Regions from separate parts of the Homo sapiens genome. Here regions 1 and 3 are each linked to region 2. The links come from fine-mapping of genetic effects on gene expression. A gene starts in region 2. Each other region holds a variant in brackets. All regions are shown on one strand. Distances are from middle to middle. Region 1 overlaps TBP (TATA-box binding protein). Region 2 holds the start of PDCD2 (programmed cell death 2). Region 3 overlaps LOC101929692 (a long non-coding RNA gene).

Region 1 (5,208 bases), 27 kb before region 2:
TATTTGCAGGGTCTCCCGTCTCTCGGTTCAGGCCATCATGGTTTTCCAAATCTCTAGGTAGACTTTTCTGTGAAAAGACTGTGCTTCATTTAGTTATACAGACACTAGAAGGCTATGCAGAATTAATTTGATTGCCTCCAAAAAATATCGGATTTGATGTTTCAATTTCCAGGAGATGAAGATACCCAGCAAACAACTCTTTTCTGAGGATAAATTAGTGCAGTAATCACTGTGCGGTTTCTTCTGTAGACTTACTTGCAAAAAGTGGCCTGAAGCCACCGAAGGTCCTGGATAAATCTCTAATCATACTTATAATGGCTTTAAATCCTGCCGTCATTATCTCTTGCCTCAACCTTAGATTCCTGAAACGAAACTTCCGTCCTCCAGTTTTACTCCTCTCAAATTCATCTAGTCTTGCCAAATTAGATCTGTTCATACTGCACTTCCGAAATTCCATAACTGTTATTATTGCCTATGCAATAACATTGAAAACTCCTGATAGTATGAGCCCACCAATATGTGCTGTCTCATCTGCTGCAGTGACCTTCTATACAGTCATACTAAGCTTGTTGCCTGCATACTGCATGCTTTTTCAATCTGTCTCTTTCTGCTTGATTTCTCTTTTGTCTGAAGCCCTGATGTGTAAATTCCTACTCACCTTGTGAGACCCAAGTTAGATGGTCCCTGCTTTGTGAAAACACTGCGCTCTCTTCACAGTGATTGGCTGTTAGTCTATATTGTCTTCTCTTCCAGGGGTGTATATGGGCTCATTCATGATCACATACTGTATTCCAGGCATAGTGCTAGATGCAGAGATCACAAAGACATGTAGGCTGGTTTCTGCATTCAAGGAACTTAGCTTAGACCATACCTGCTGTTATAATACTATGTTTTACAGTAGTTATTTGCATACCCTTCATATTGAACACTTTGATGCCAAGGACTATATCCTCCTATCTTTATATCCTCATCTGCAGGACTTCTGTTATTGTTATTATAGGATAACTGTCAAAAAAAAAGTATATTTTAAAAAATATCTCTGATATATTTATTTCCAGAAGCAGAGCTTGCTTTCTTTTTTGGTCTGTTTTTCAGTGATGAGTATGTAGGATAGATAGTCTTTGGGGGCCTTTGCCCTTTCAAAGTGATCGTCAGAGTCTTTCATACATTCAGCAAATATCTGAGTGTCTGTTCTGTACCAGCACATGCTTGAAGTGCATATGCCTGAAGGATCTTTGGACATATAATTTGTAACTTTGAGACCTCTAAGTTCTATGTGAGAATATGTTGTTATAAACTCATTTCAGATGTGTAGTGAGTAAAGCGATGATGATTTAAGAAAAGTCAGATAACAGGCACAGTTTGCATTAATGTGTTCTAAAGAGGTAAGGTTATTACATTTATAAAAATTCAGGGCTTTATCTTTGTGCGGCTTTTTTTTTTTTAACAGTTTCATTACAGTAGGAGCTTGATAAATGATCACTCTGAAGTATATTGGATTGAATTTGATATTTACTTAATTTTTTGCCCAAGACATTGTAGAGGATGTAAAATTGGAATATTTAAAGATCTAAACTTTGCCTAACAGTGCTGTGTATACAGTGCTTAGTGAATATTCTGCTCTGATATTACATTTTGCTTAGGAATTATTTTTCTCTAGGTGTTTTTCCTCAAAAGTTTTTAATGCTGGTTATGACAGCTCGATTTTGAGCATTTTCCGATTATTTAAACATGTAACAAAATGATTTTTGTTTTGTTGGCGATTTTACATGCAATCGCCGGAAACATGGAAGGAATAAAACTTTAGGATTATAAGGTAAAAACAAATGTATTCCAAAATAGCTTCATTGGTTTTCATGTTTGTGTTTTGTATAGCCATAGAACTGGCTTATAGGACTGTACAGGTTACCTGGATCCTTAAATTAAACTTTAGACTTTTTTCCAAAGCAGCATCACTGTTTCTTGGCGTGTGAAGATAACCCAAGGAATTGAGGAAGTTGCTGAGAAGAGTGTGCTGGAGATGCTCTAGGAAAAAATTGAATAGTGAGACGAGTTCCAGCGCAAGGGTTTCTGGTTTGCCAAGAAGAAAGTGAACATCATGGATCAGAACAACAGCCTGCCACCTTACGCTCAGGGCTTGGCCTCCCCTCAGGTAATATAGCAGGAGGGAGAGAATAGGGAGGGCGGAAATCTGAACTGCAAGAGATGGTATCAAAAGGCAAGGAAGGGCATTTAATGATCTGTTTTTGAAAATGGTTTAATATGTTTTTTAAGCCTTATTTTGTTGAGAAGTTCTATTAGGCTTTGAATAGGCACAATGGTGTTTATTTGGGAAGTCTGGAAGCTAAGTTATATATTTATGAAACACCTAATCTTTTGATAAACACTTATGAGAATGTTCCAAATGACTATATAGGGTCTTTGATTTTGAAAATCACCCTCACCAAATTATTTTCTAGTTTTATTTTTCCCCTTTTACATTTCAAGCTCTCAACCACCCATCTACTTTAAAAATTTTTCAGCCTGGGTGCAGTGGCTCACGCCTGTAATCCCAGCACTTTGGGAGGCCAAGGTGGGCGGATCACCTGAGGTCAGGAGTTCGAGACCAGCCTGGCCAACGTGGTGAAACCTCATCTCTACAAAATATACAAAAATTAGCCAGGTGTTGTGGCGGGTGCCTGTAATCCCAGCTACTCGGGAGGCTGAGGCAAGGAGAATTGCTTGAACCCGGGAGGTGGAGGTTGCAGTGAGCAGAGGTCGTGCCACTGCACTCCAGCCTGGGAGACAGAGCGAGACTCTGTCTCAAAAAAAAAAAAAAAAAAAAAAAAATCAATAACTTTTGTTGAAATATACATACAAAAAAACTCATTTTAAGTGTCTGTTTTGATAATTATATATAATGTATAAATTACAGAACATTTCAGTTACCTTAAAAAGTCCCTTCTTCCCCTTTATAGTCACTCTG[C/T]TGGCCCCAGGTAACTACTGCATCTGCTTTTCAATGCTGAAGATTAGTTTTGTCTATTCTAGAATTTCATATAGATGGAATCAGAGTGTATGCTTTTTTGTGTATGTCTGACTTCTTAGCCCAGTGTACTGTTTGTATATCAGTAGTTAATCCATTGTATAGCTAAGTATCACTCCATTGTTTGGATGTTCCACAGTTCATCCATTCTCCAGTTGCTCACATTTGGGGTCTTTCCAGTTTGGAGCTATTGCGAATAAAAGCACTGTAAACATTTGTGTAGACTTTGAATGCACTGTTTTTACTTCTCATGGGTAAATACTTAGGAGTAGGATTGCTAGGTCCTATATTGGTATATGTATAACTTTATAAGAAACTGCCAAACTGTTTTTTGAAGTGGCTGTATTGTTTTGCAGCATAAGAGATTTAAGTTGCTCCACATCCTCACCAACACTTTCTGCTGTCAGTCTTTTTACTTTCACTCTAGTGATTGCTTAGTAGTATCTTATTGTGGTTTTGATTTTTATTTGCCTGATTACTAATGTTTCTGAGCACCTTGGCAAGTGCTTGTCAGCCACTCATACACAGGCCCACCTCACTTTACTGCACTTCACTTTACTGCATGTTTGACAAATTGAAGGTTGTGGTAAACCTGTACCCAGCAAGTCTGTTGGCATTATTTTTCCAAAAGTGTGTACTCACTTCATGTCTTGGGGTTAGATTTTGGTAATTTTTGCAGGATTTCAAACTTTTTCATTATTATCCGTTATTGTTATCAAACTTTTTTTTTTCTTTTTTTTTGTATTTTTTTTTTAATTTTTTTTTTCAGTCACTCTGTTGCCCAGGCTGGAGTGCAGTGGTGCAGTCTTGGCTCACTGCAAACTCCATCTCCCGTGTTCAAGCGATTCTCCTGCCTCAGCCTCCCAAGTAGCTGGGATTACAGGCATGCGCCACCACACCCAGCTAAATTTTGTATTTTTAGTGGAGACGGAGTTTCACCATGCTGGTGTCAAACTACTGGCTGCAAGTGATCCATCCGCCTTGGCCTCCCAAAGTGTTGGGATTACAGGCATGAGCCACTGTGCCTAGTCAAACCTTTTCATTATTATCTGTTATTGTGATCAGTGATCTTTGATGTTACTATTGTAATTATTATTGAATGCCATAAACTGCACCTGTATAATACAGGAACTTAATTGATAAATGTCTGCAGCGTGACCAACCATTCCCCCATCTCTCTCCCTCTGCTTGGTCTTCCCTATTCCTTGAGACACAACAATATGGAAATTAGGCTAATTAATAACCTTACAGTGACTTTTAATTAAGTGTTCAGATGAAGGGAAGAGCTGCACATCTCTCATTTGAAACCAAAAGCTATAAATGATTATACTTAGTGAAGAAGGCATGTTGAAAGCTGAGACAGGCTAAAAGCTAGGCCTCTTGCACCAAATAGTTAGCCAAGTTGTGAATGCAAGGGAAAAGTTCTTAAAGGAAATTAGAAGTGCTACTCCAGTAAACCCACAAGTGATAAGAAAGCAAAACAGCCTTATTGCTTATATGGAGAAAGTTTGAATGGTCTGGATAGAAGATCATACCACCCACACATCCCCTTAAGCCAAAGTGTAATACAGAGCAAGGCCTTAACTCTCTTCAATTCTGTAAAGGCTGAGAGCGGAGAGGAAGCTGTAGAAGAAAGTTTTGAAACTAGCAGAGGTTTATTCAGAGCTTTAAGGAGAGAGGCCTTCTCCACAACATAAAAATGCAACATGAAGCAGCAAGTTATCTGGAAGATCTAGCTGAGATAATTGATGAAGGTGACTATACTAAATAATAGATTTTTAATGTAGATGAAACAGCCTTCTACTGGAAGAAGATGCTATCTAGGACTTTTATAGCTAGAGAGGAGAAATCAGTGCCTAGCCTCAAAGCTTCAGAGGACTGGCTGACTAGTTAGGGGCTAATAGAGCTGGTGAGTTTAAATTGAAGCCAATGCTCATGTTCTGCTCTAAAACCATAGAGCCTTAAGAATTACGCTAAATCTACTCTGCCTGTCCTCAGTAAACAGAACAACAAAACCTGATGAGAGCACGTCTGTTTACAGCATGATTTACTGGATATTTTAAGCTCTTTGAGATCTGCTCAGAAAAAAAGTTTAATTTCAAAATATTACTCACTGACAGTGTAACTAGTTGTCCACAAGCTCTGATGGAGAAGAACAAGGAGATTAATATTGTTTTCATGCCTGC
Region 2 (5,230 bases):
TCTAGGCTCTCCTTTCTCCTAAAGATAAGCATTTTCATTATGTATCATGTTTATCGTATAGGCATGAACACACGCGCGGCCCCTTCCAGGCAGTCTTCAGTGATGTCACGTGTTCCCATGGCACCTGTATTGTACTCTTATCAGTCATTATATGGACTTTAACTTCCCCAGATATTATTTGGGCTCCTCCATAAGACTGTGAGCATCTGACCACTGGAGTGTTGCTTCCCATTATATCCCTGTTATCAAGCACAAGGTCAGGCACAGAGTAAGACTCAAAACATGTTTTGGAATGTATGACTGGTATGAACTACAAACCAGTAAGCTGATGTTTTCATTTTGAGTCTATAAATCTAATTTTGTGGTGGTTTTGTGTATGGCTCAAGGCTCAAATTGTAAAATTTAATATTATGTGACCAAAGAAAGTTATACCCAGAACCTCAATTTCCTCACCTTCAAAATGGGGCAGTTTCTCACTCATTGGTCTGCTGTCACGATTTTAATGAGCTCATGCACAAACAGCCCTTTATATAAGGTAAGTGCTGGATAAATGTTGGCTACTATAATAAAATAAGCCTCTAAGATACTTGGTCAGCACAAGTACTACCCAAGAGTATGCACTGTAAGTAAACTGACAAAATTGTGTATCTAAAACTGGCCAGATGAAAGAGAAACTTTTAAGGGGCCCTTCTGCGTGCCCGACACTGTGCTAGGCACTCACACTATCCCGACCCGAGAAACCGATCTGCGACCCAGAGGAACTTACCAAGCCTCCAGCATCTTGTGCAGCCCTACTCATGGGACCATCTGGATACCCACCCTTGTCTTTACAGGGAGCAGAACACACCTCTTATGTGTCAGAAAACAAAGTCCAGGAAGTATATTTTTACCTGAGGCAATATCTGAAAATTGTATGCTACAGCCTCCAAAGTGAGTCTTCCTCTCAGTACCTCTCTTCTAGGCACATGGAGCCCTTTCTTCCAAGTATTATGTTTAACCACTTAATGAATGAAGTCCTGAAACTGCTTACCCATGCTCCCTATAATCTCTGAGTAATCTTCCTTTTCCACAACCTCAGGCATAATCTCATCTTCTGTTTCTATTACAATTTCAAATTCTGGAAAAAGGAAGTTGTGGTCTGGAATTATATGGTCCAGATGATCTGAAACAAAAAGGACAGCACTATTAGTAATCATTTAGTTTTGAAGACAGTCTAATAATTTGCTGTCTCTAAAGTACTATATTCCCTATAGTTCTGGCATTTTAGATAAAGGGTCATAAATTAAATGCCTATATGGTGACATTATTCAGTGATTCAGACTTCACAGCCTTTTTTTTTTTTTTACAAAGGTGTTCCAGGCATGAAAAATTTTAAAGTACTATACCTTTCCTAATTTTACCTTTAAAGTTGTCCTGGAAATATCTGGGTTGACAAAGGCGATGAAACTGAACTGAGACTTAAAAAAAAGATTACCCACCTGGTTGTGCACAAGCCTGCTTATGTCCCAATCTCCAGTCTAGGGTCTGATGCTCCTTGCTGCAGTAATATGCTTTGTGGCATCTGGAGCACGTTTTGGGGCCTAAACAGCCACAAACCCTGCAGAGATGAGCACCAGACTTAAGCTGGAGACACACTGATTCTCCTGTTTCTGGGGGAGGATTCTCAGAAGGTGGCTCATATGAGTAAAAATCGTTTTTCCTGGGTAGTTGATTCCTAAAAACTAAAAAAGAATACAGAGAAAAGTTTTATCTTCAAACAAAACAGCAATTCACATATTTTATCCTCTGCACGTAAAACTGAAAATAACAACAACAAAAAAGAAATGAAAGTTTTTGCTTTCAGGAATAAGCTTTTAAAATCCAGAAACTAGATTTCGTCCGGTACACGCAACTGAGTTGCCTCCTAGAGGTGGTTTGAGTTAATCAAATTAATAAGACTGATCGTTAAGAACGACTGCCAAAAATACGAAAAAGCTACTGGGATCCATCTTTCCAAGACAATTTCTATTATCTGAATTAACACCATACCTGGTACCCACTGATTAAAAGCTGGGGGTTACCAATGCGCGTGGGCACAGTTAGAAGCTTATGTAGCAAAAATGAGCACATCCTGGAAGGGCCCGGGAGAAGGTGCTCCTGGGGCAGCGCGGAGAGGGAGCTCTGAGGCTGGGGCGGCAGCGGTGCTTGCCGCCGTCCCCCTGGTCGCTCCCGGAATTAACGCCGCGCACGCGTCGGAGGCATGGCCCCGTCCCGACCCCGTTTGGCGGCTCACCTCGCAGGCCGGCACAGCACGGCTGCTCGCGGCAGCAGAAGAGGAAGATGCAGCGGTGGAAGGCGTCCGGGCGGCCAGGCAGCGGCGCATACACCTGCAGCAGGAAGGAGAGCGGGCGGCCGCACAGCTCGCAGGCCAGGGCCTGGGGCCCCGGCAGCCCGGCCGCGCCCAGCCATGCCGGCCGCCCGCCCACCTTGCTGGGGAACTGCTCGCTGCGCAGTCGCCACGCCGGCGCCGACTCGGCGAAGCCCAGCTCCACAGGCCTGGCCCCGGCGGCAGCCATGCGGGGCGCGGGCTGGCGTGGGGCGCAGCCCACAGCTGGGTCGGAAGGCGGAAATCGGGCGCCGGGCCGGAAGGCAAGAGGCGGGCACCTTTCCGGAGGACAGGAGGCGGAAACGCGTCTGACGGGAGCGGTTGCAGGACCAATGCGAGGGAACGGGGCAGAGGAAACCTCTCGGCATCAGCCCCGCCCCTGGCGCCTCTGCCTCCGAGCCGCTTTCCTGGTGCCTCCGGGTGCTCTGGGATGGTTCTGGTCTTTGGGAGAGTGGCAGCTGGTGACGGCGCTCCGCTCACCTCTGCACATGTCTTGCTGTGGGCCTGCGGGTGGCCGCCAGGGAGGCAGAGCCCTCCCGCAAACCTTCCCTGCTGGTGTCCACCTCAGGGTGTGGGAAACCTGTGCGCTGGCCGAGTGCTAACCAAGAGTAGGCAGTGAAAGACAAATGAAGGTTGAACAGGTAAAGTGAGGACCCTACAGCGGAAACCAAGAATCCTGTGTGCCTGAGAGTAATGAAGAAGCCTCTGCAGAAGAGTCTTTTCTGTCAGTCTTAAGGTCTCTGTTTTAATGTTAGTGCTGGCTTGCTGTACCTGAATTCCAAGGGAGGAGTGTATAATGAGGCATGGCCAACCCCCACTTCCCATCATTGCCTGAACTAGTTTTTCAGGTTAACTTCAGAATGCCCTTGGGCAAGCAGAGGGTCCATCAGTCGGTTGGAGGGTTTAGAATTTTACTGTTGGTTTGCAAAGGTCTGAAAGAAACATGTACCACCTGTTCTCTTTAAGGAGTTCTACTTAGGAGGTTTCATTTACATAACAAGACCGTGGTTGTCAGCCAGGTCTCCACCCGCATAACCTGTTATGCCACAATCCAAACCCCCATTCTGTAACCTCAAGATGGTATATAAGTTTCTGAACCCCATTTGGGGCTTCAGCAAAATCACTCTGGTTCTCCCCCATGTGCATGTTAATAAATTTGTATGCCCTTTCTCCAATTAATGTGCCTTTTGTCAGTTGACTTTTCAGTGAACCTTCAGAGGACAAAAAGGAAGCTTTCCCTTGGCTACTACAGTGGCTTTAATGGAAGTAAAGTCATCAACAACATTTATTTTTGACAAAATCACAGTTTAGTTGGCAGTATATTTGTTTGTTTTTGTTTTATTTGAGATGGAGTCTCGCTCTGTCGCCCAGGCTGGAGAGCAATGGTGCGATCTCGGCTCACTGCAACCTCCGCCTCCCGAGTTCAAGCATTCTCCTGCCTCAGCCTCCCGAGCAGCTGGGTAGCAGTATATTTGTAATGGTACATAAAATAATGTCTGTTTTTAAATAAACATTTACATTGTAAACCAAAAGTTAACTCTCCATCAATTTTTTTTTTTCTTTTTTGAGATGGCATCTTGCTCTGTCACCCAGGCTGGAGGAGTGCAGTGGCATGATCTCGGCTCACTGCAACCTTCGCCTCCCAGGCAAGCGATCCTCTTGCCTCAGCCTCCTGAGCAGCTGGAATTATAGGTGTGTGCCAATACAACCAGCTAATTTTCGTATCTTTGGTAGAGACAGAGTTTCACCATGTTGGCCAGGCTTGTCTCGAATTCCTGACCTCAGTTGATCTGTCCGTCTCAGCTTCCCAAAGTGCTGGGATTACAGGCATGAGCCACCACATCCGGCATCCATCAATTTAGAAAGTTTATTTCACCAAGATTAAGGTTGCACCCGTGACACAGCCTCAGAAGGCCCTGATGACCATGTGCCCTTGGTGGTCAGGGTACAGCTTGCTTTTATACATGTTAGGGAGACATGAGACATCAATCAGTATGTGTAAGATGTACTTTAGTCAGGTAAAGCGGGACTTGAGGTGAGGGCTTCCAGGTCATGAGTAGATAAGAGGCAAAAGATCGCATTTTTTTGAGTCCTTGATCAGCCTTCCACTGAATACACAATTTAGTCTGGCTCAGTGAATTATCATTTTTACGTAAACAATAGGGGAGGGGAAGCAATTAGATATGCATTTGTCTCAGGCGCACCTTAAAGGGATAACTTTGAGTTCTGTCTGTCCTTTATCCACAAGGAATTTCCTTGTGGGCAAATTTTAAGGGAGGTACGTAGCCTCTTATCTTGGCAGCTATCTTATTTAGGAATAGAATGGGAGGCAGGTTTGCCTGACATAGTTTCCAGCTTGACTTTACCCTTTGGTTTAGTGATTTTGTGGTCCTGAGTTTTATTTTCCTTTCACAGAAATTATACCGTAAAAGTAATTGAAGAAAATCACTTCTTTCCCCTTCCCTCAACTAGGCCTTGACCATTTTAAATAAAATCAGGATTTGCTGAAGGTCAACAAATTTAACCAAGTTCAGTTAAAACTTAACTCTGAATCTGTATGTCCCTGGGGTCTTTTCCAGTGAGAGATGTCTAAGCATCATTCCAAGCTTTTCTATACTAACTGGCCTATTTGTATGTTTCTTATTTTAGGATTCCTTTTGTTCATGTGTATTTTTATTAGGCAATCACCCATTTCCTGTAGGTTTCCAGGTTAATATATTTTTCTTATTGGAATTTTAATTTATCCTCTCTAGTTTTCTACATATTTTTTTTTTCTTTGAGACGAGGTCTCATATGTTGCCCCGGTTGGCCTCAAACTCCTGGGCTTAAGCAATCCTCCCACCTTGGCCTCCCAAAGTGCTGGGA
Region 3 (5,230 bases), 52 kb after region 2:
CTATTTTGGCTCCACTTTAACAAAATGAATAAGTGAGAAGGTAATACTGGAAACAGAACATAACTGTGACTAGGAATTTGGTCTTGACTCGCCATTTAATTTTCTGATGTGCATGACTGTTTTCTTCACATGTGAAATTTAACATGAGGTTGAAACTGGAGAATTTTATATTTTTCATGAAAAAGGCAATTTGGGAGAAAAGTCCATTTTCCTGAGGATAAGGTATTGTATGGTTTGACTGCTTTGCCTTGGCTGGTCAACACATTTGTACACCTGGATAGGCACAGTTTTCAGAAATCCTTTCAAGCATCTACCAATTCTCCTGTCTACAAGTTTACCTTCCTCCCATTTCTCATTCCTAATGACAAGGGAAATATCCAGTGTTATCTGAAGTGGTCATAAAAGACATTTTTTTTCTTTTTATGTGAGGAATTGAAACTTATGGCTTTAGATTATGGGGCTTACCATCAAGGAAAGGGCGTAGCGTGGTCAGAGGACAAAACTTCTTCCTGCATTTCTCAGGAAGTCTTTGATTAGTGTGTCCACCTAGGAGCAATTTTTTTTGGGGGGGGCGCTGGGAAATATACTTAAGTGATTAAATCCAAGTGTAGACATGAGAGCTTTACCTAAAGCCAGGTCTAATTACCATACCTGAGAATCAGGGAGTATTTAAAATTTGAGAAATAATTTTCTATACTTGAAAGTCACTTATGTAGGTAGGCCTCAGATTATAATAAATAACGTTTATTGTGCTATACTATGTGGTAGGTATGAGGTTAAGTATTTTTACCTATATTATATCACTTATTTCTTACAAATGGAGCAAGGGAGCAAGCAAACAAGGGAGGTATTATTATCCCTATTTTATGTATTTATGTATTTATTTTTGATTTCTATTCTTTTGGTTTTTTTGTTGTTTTTTATTGATGTATCATAGTTGTACATGTTTTGGGGTACATGTGATATTTTTGATACATGTATACAATGTGTAATGATCAAATCAGAGTAATTTGGATATTCATCACCTCGAATATTTATCTTTTCTTTGTGTTGGGAACATTATAATTTTTCTCTGCTAGCTATTTTAGAATATATAATAAATTATTGTTCCCTATGATTTCTCCATTGTATAATTGAATACTAAAATTTATTATGTCTATCTACATATCCCCAGTTCAATAACTATAATTTCTCTGCTGTGCAATCAAATACTAGAACTTCTTCCTTCGAACGCTATATCCCTAATTCAATAACTAGTAAACTGAAGCTCAGCATGGTCTAGGAACTTTGTTACATTAACACAGCAAGTGAGTGTTGCAGCCTGGATCCAAAAATCAGGCCTGGTCGACCTCAAAGTCCAGATTATTGACCTTTCTACCATAATGTATGGAGGTAAGTTTGTGAATTTATTCAAAAATCAGGCCTGGTCAACCTCAAAGTCCAAATTATTAACCTTTCTACCATAATATATGGAGCTAAGTTTGTGAATTTTCATAGTTTTAGGATTTGAAGATAAAAGAGGTGAAAATTTGGAAATGGTTTCTGGACTTTTGAATTTTGGCAAACAGCTATGTGATAAGTCCACCCTGCAGACCCACAACTTTTGGAAATAACTCTACTGTGATCTTCAGTAGCAGAAGCTGCTCCTGGGGTGGTAGAACACAAGGAAAACACACACTAGTAAAAATTTCATGTGGCTTCTTTGTTCTGTACATGTGTTTCTCTTGATTAGTATATGGTAGTATCCTCAAATCATAGTAACGAGTATACTTTTTCCAGTGAATTGCATGTGTATATTATTGTATAGTATAAAAGGCAATATTTCCATTTATTATCATCTGTGCTTTTCAAAGAAACTCTGTGAGTCCAAAAGGGCAGATAATAGAAGCAACTGCCCTTTCTCTCCCCCTTTAAATGCAACCCAATGTCAAAGTCCGTAGCATCCCCAGATGAGTGTGTTAAAGGTGAGAAATTCCCAAAGTCAAACTCAGTAGCATCCTTGAATGAGTGTATTAAAGGTGATAAATTTATTTTATGTATGTTCTTTTTAACCTGTGTTCTCAGAAACAGAGACTACTGTATTTCATCCTACCTTAGTCTTGCTTAGCAGTTTCTCTTCTCCTTTGAGGCTCTTTTATTTTTAAATCATTGTTCATATCTTCTAATCTCCCCTTTCTCCCATTCTTCCCATATTTTTAATCTTGTTTTAACTTTATCTCTGTTCTACTTTTTCTGTATTTCAAATTGATCCATAGACTTTAGAAAAATGAGTTGAATGCTGGCTGTAGGCTGTCTTATCCCCAGCAAGAAACATGTTGTAAAGTCTTAGTACCTTCCCACTGGAAGATCATTAGTCATGGCTACTATGTTTTTAAATGAGAATTGTTTTAATTATGCATTTTAAAATTATTGGAAAACATGAGGGAGAGGAATGAACCATAAGTAATAAAGATTATTGACTTGAAGTTAAGACCTTACTATGATCTGGGATTATTAGTCTTACTTGTCAATC[A/G]AGAACTATCCACTTTCTATTCATTTGTGGGTATCTAATATGGTTATATACACAGAAGTAATGATAATTGATATGAAAAGGTCTCCTCCTGTTATATCAATTTAGGTATTTTTCACACATTGTATACCTCATTCTTCTCCTATTCAATTTTCACTAATTCCTAAAGGGTCAGGTCAATGTCCTTGGCATAACCTCCTCCACCTGTTCTTAATGGCAATCGTCTCTTCTGCCCTCCAATATCTATAACACTTTTTTCTTTAAAACTCTTTGAATGTTTATCTTAATACTCATTTGATATATATTGTATACCACATATGATTGTTTGTTATATGTACAATACATGTTTTTTCAACTTTTTTTGGTTCTTTCTATTTACAGGAATTAGAGAAAGAACAAATCAGTGTGAAGGAGAATTGTCAGTAAAATTACAAGAAAAGATTGAGATCATAATTGACCTTTGAGGATAATAAAATTTAAAGACCAAAAGGATGGACTTCACAGAAACATGACCTTAGGTTGTTTTTGCAGTTGTAGTAACTGGTTATATGACCAACAAAATATGAAGAATGGGTACAAATTCTGATAGTAATGATCAGTCACTTTGCAAATATAAAGCTACTATTTACTACTGTATTGTACAGGTTCAATAATCTTTGTGTACACATTTTATGTATTTATTGTCAGGCTGCTATATAATTCAGTATTTATAATAGATACTATGTATAGCAATCTATGGTTAGTTTTGGTCTTAACCAGGAAAAATCACTCTTTTGAGTTTTGCTGTTTTTACTAGATTATTTTTACTGGATGATTGCTCATATTATTTGATTATTATTGCAATTTGTCTTTCTGGAATAGGAAGCAAGAGGCCTGAATTCTGGTTCCTATTCTATCAATTGTGTGAATTCTGGAAACTCAGTTTACTTTTCTGGGCCTCATGGTTTTCATCTGAATGATGACCAACTTGGATAAAATGGTCTTTATATAATTTCGTAGGCATTTCCCTTCCCAAGGGCTTGAGTCTTTTTCAACAATTATAGAGTTTTCCGGTCCCTCTTCCCAGTGCCTCAGCACCTTGCTATTCATGTTCATCTGATCAGTTGTTTGCATGCTGACTTACATTACCCTGATGGGCAGTACCTGTGGCTGTTTCTGCTCCCTCACCCAGTCCATAGGCTTCTGGTTGTAAAAAGTGTGCATCTTGAGACTGTGGACAGTTAGCTCCAGAGGTGACAGTATAATCACTTCACGTAGAAGAGGATAGAGAGAGACTCATGCCAGTGGTGGTGAGCAAGTATTAGAGATATGATGTGTGCCTCTGTGAGTTTTGGGGTCTAAGATAAATTATGGCACTAGGAAGATGGTCCTTTGTGTCAGAAGAACTGGAGTTGTTGGTGCAAAAAAGTATGATGTCAGCATAGCAGTTTTATTTGTACCTCAGCAACTTCTAAAATAATCTCTATTAAGTGTTTTCAGGAACTACTTTCTACTATAGGAAAATCATTGAGGTGAGTATCCATCTGGACACAGAGAAATATAACACTGTTTTCTGCTCACCCTCCACTTCACATATAAATACAACATGTGTTAAAGGACTAAATTTCTAGTGTCACAGTTTGTACTTTATAGTTTGAAGTCAATAAGAAAGCTCATATACCTTCCTAAAAGTCACTTGTTAATGTTTGATATTAATCTAATTTTATCATAAATTAAAAGTATAAAACTACAAATTTCTTAAAGATAAAATATCCAAATGGATTCAGTCAAATTAAGCATGATAATATCAAATATCAGAATAGGTTACCATGCAGGAGGTACTGAGTACTTAAAAGGATGGGGAATGCAATGAACATAAAAGCTGGTACCAAGGGGAGGAGGAGACAGCGATGAATTAAAACATTATCTTAACTAATCCAAGTGCTGGTCTTCAATACTTTCATGTGTATAGACAAAGAGAAACTGCAGAGATTTCTCACAACCTCTGTGGCCATTTTATGCATCTTAGCAAAAACTCTGGTGAAATCCCTCCAAAACATATTTATTAGGCATGGAAAAAGCCTTACATGACAGGTGGCATAGGCTCCTTATGAAATCACTGCAGGATGGGAAGCCATTTAGGGCTTCGTAATTGTGAAAGATTGTATAGAAACTGAGGCACTTAAATAGCAGTGAGCATGAGAAAATGTGGTAGATAATGGTGGTGATTCTATTTCTTGTGAAAGTCCACTTACTCTGTTCTGCTACAGTTGTGGGCTTTCCGATTTCACATACCCCAGTCTCTATATTCTGTCTCAATCCACAGCCTACCTCAACTAAGTCCGTCCCAGGCACCTCTTACTGCAGGTGATAATCCATCTGTTAATCATGTTTTCCTCTTATGTCTACTTTCTGTCAGAGAATTGTGGCTACAAACTGGGAAGGGAAGGAAATTATAAGAATATGTATAAGTACAAATGGAATATGTTGGAAATGAGGAATAGTTAATATCGCAGGTCATTTAAACACCTGATGAATTTCATGGATAGTCAGGAATCTTGTTCTTACCTAATCTGTTAATTTTAGATCAGACATTACACTGAAAGTATTGATGATGGGTTTAAATCAGGTTGCAGCTCACATGTTGTGATAATATTATGTTGATTTTTTGTTTTTAATATGTGAGGAACAGAATAACTGTATACTATTTATTCATAGTGACATTGCAATATTGATTTTAGT

Evidence for each region. PIP is the estimated chance that this variant, and not a neighbour inherited with it, causes the effect.
Region 1: its variant is fine-mapped to the expression of PDCD2 in fibroblasts (GTEx, PIP above 0.99).
Region 3: its variant is fine-mapped to the expression of PDCD2 in whole blood (INTERVAL, PIP 0.94).

The regions. Positions count from the first base shown.
Region 1 is chr6:170,554,932-170,560,139 of GRCh38, forward strand. TBP (TATA-box binding protein) reads left to right here. Exons shown (of 8, transcript NM_003194.5): 2 at 1,951-2,152. The coding sequence starts at 2,099. Among named protein-coding and RNA genes, the nearest start is that of TBP, 3.2 kb to the left of the region's middle. The variant C/T (reference allele first, on the strand shown) is at 2,966.
Region 2 is chr6:170,582,027-170,587,256 of GRCh38, forward strand. PDCD2 (programmed cell death 2) reads right to left here and starts at 2,611. Exons shown (of 6, transcript NM_002598.4): 1 at 2,273-2,611; 2 at 1,479-1,721; 3 at 1,031-1,162. The coding sequence starts at 2,555. RefSeq lists a silencer at 2,341-2,580.
Region 3 is chr6:170,634,292-170,639,521 of GRCh38, forward strand. The region is part of intron 2 of LOC101929692 (a long non-coding RNA gene); the gene reads left to right. Among named protein-coding and RNA genes, the nearest start is that of PDCD2, 52 kb to the left of the region's middle. The variant A/G (reference allele first, on the strand shown) is at 2,513.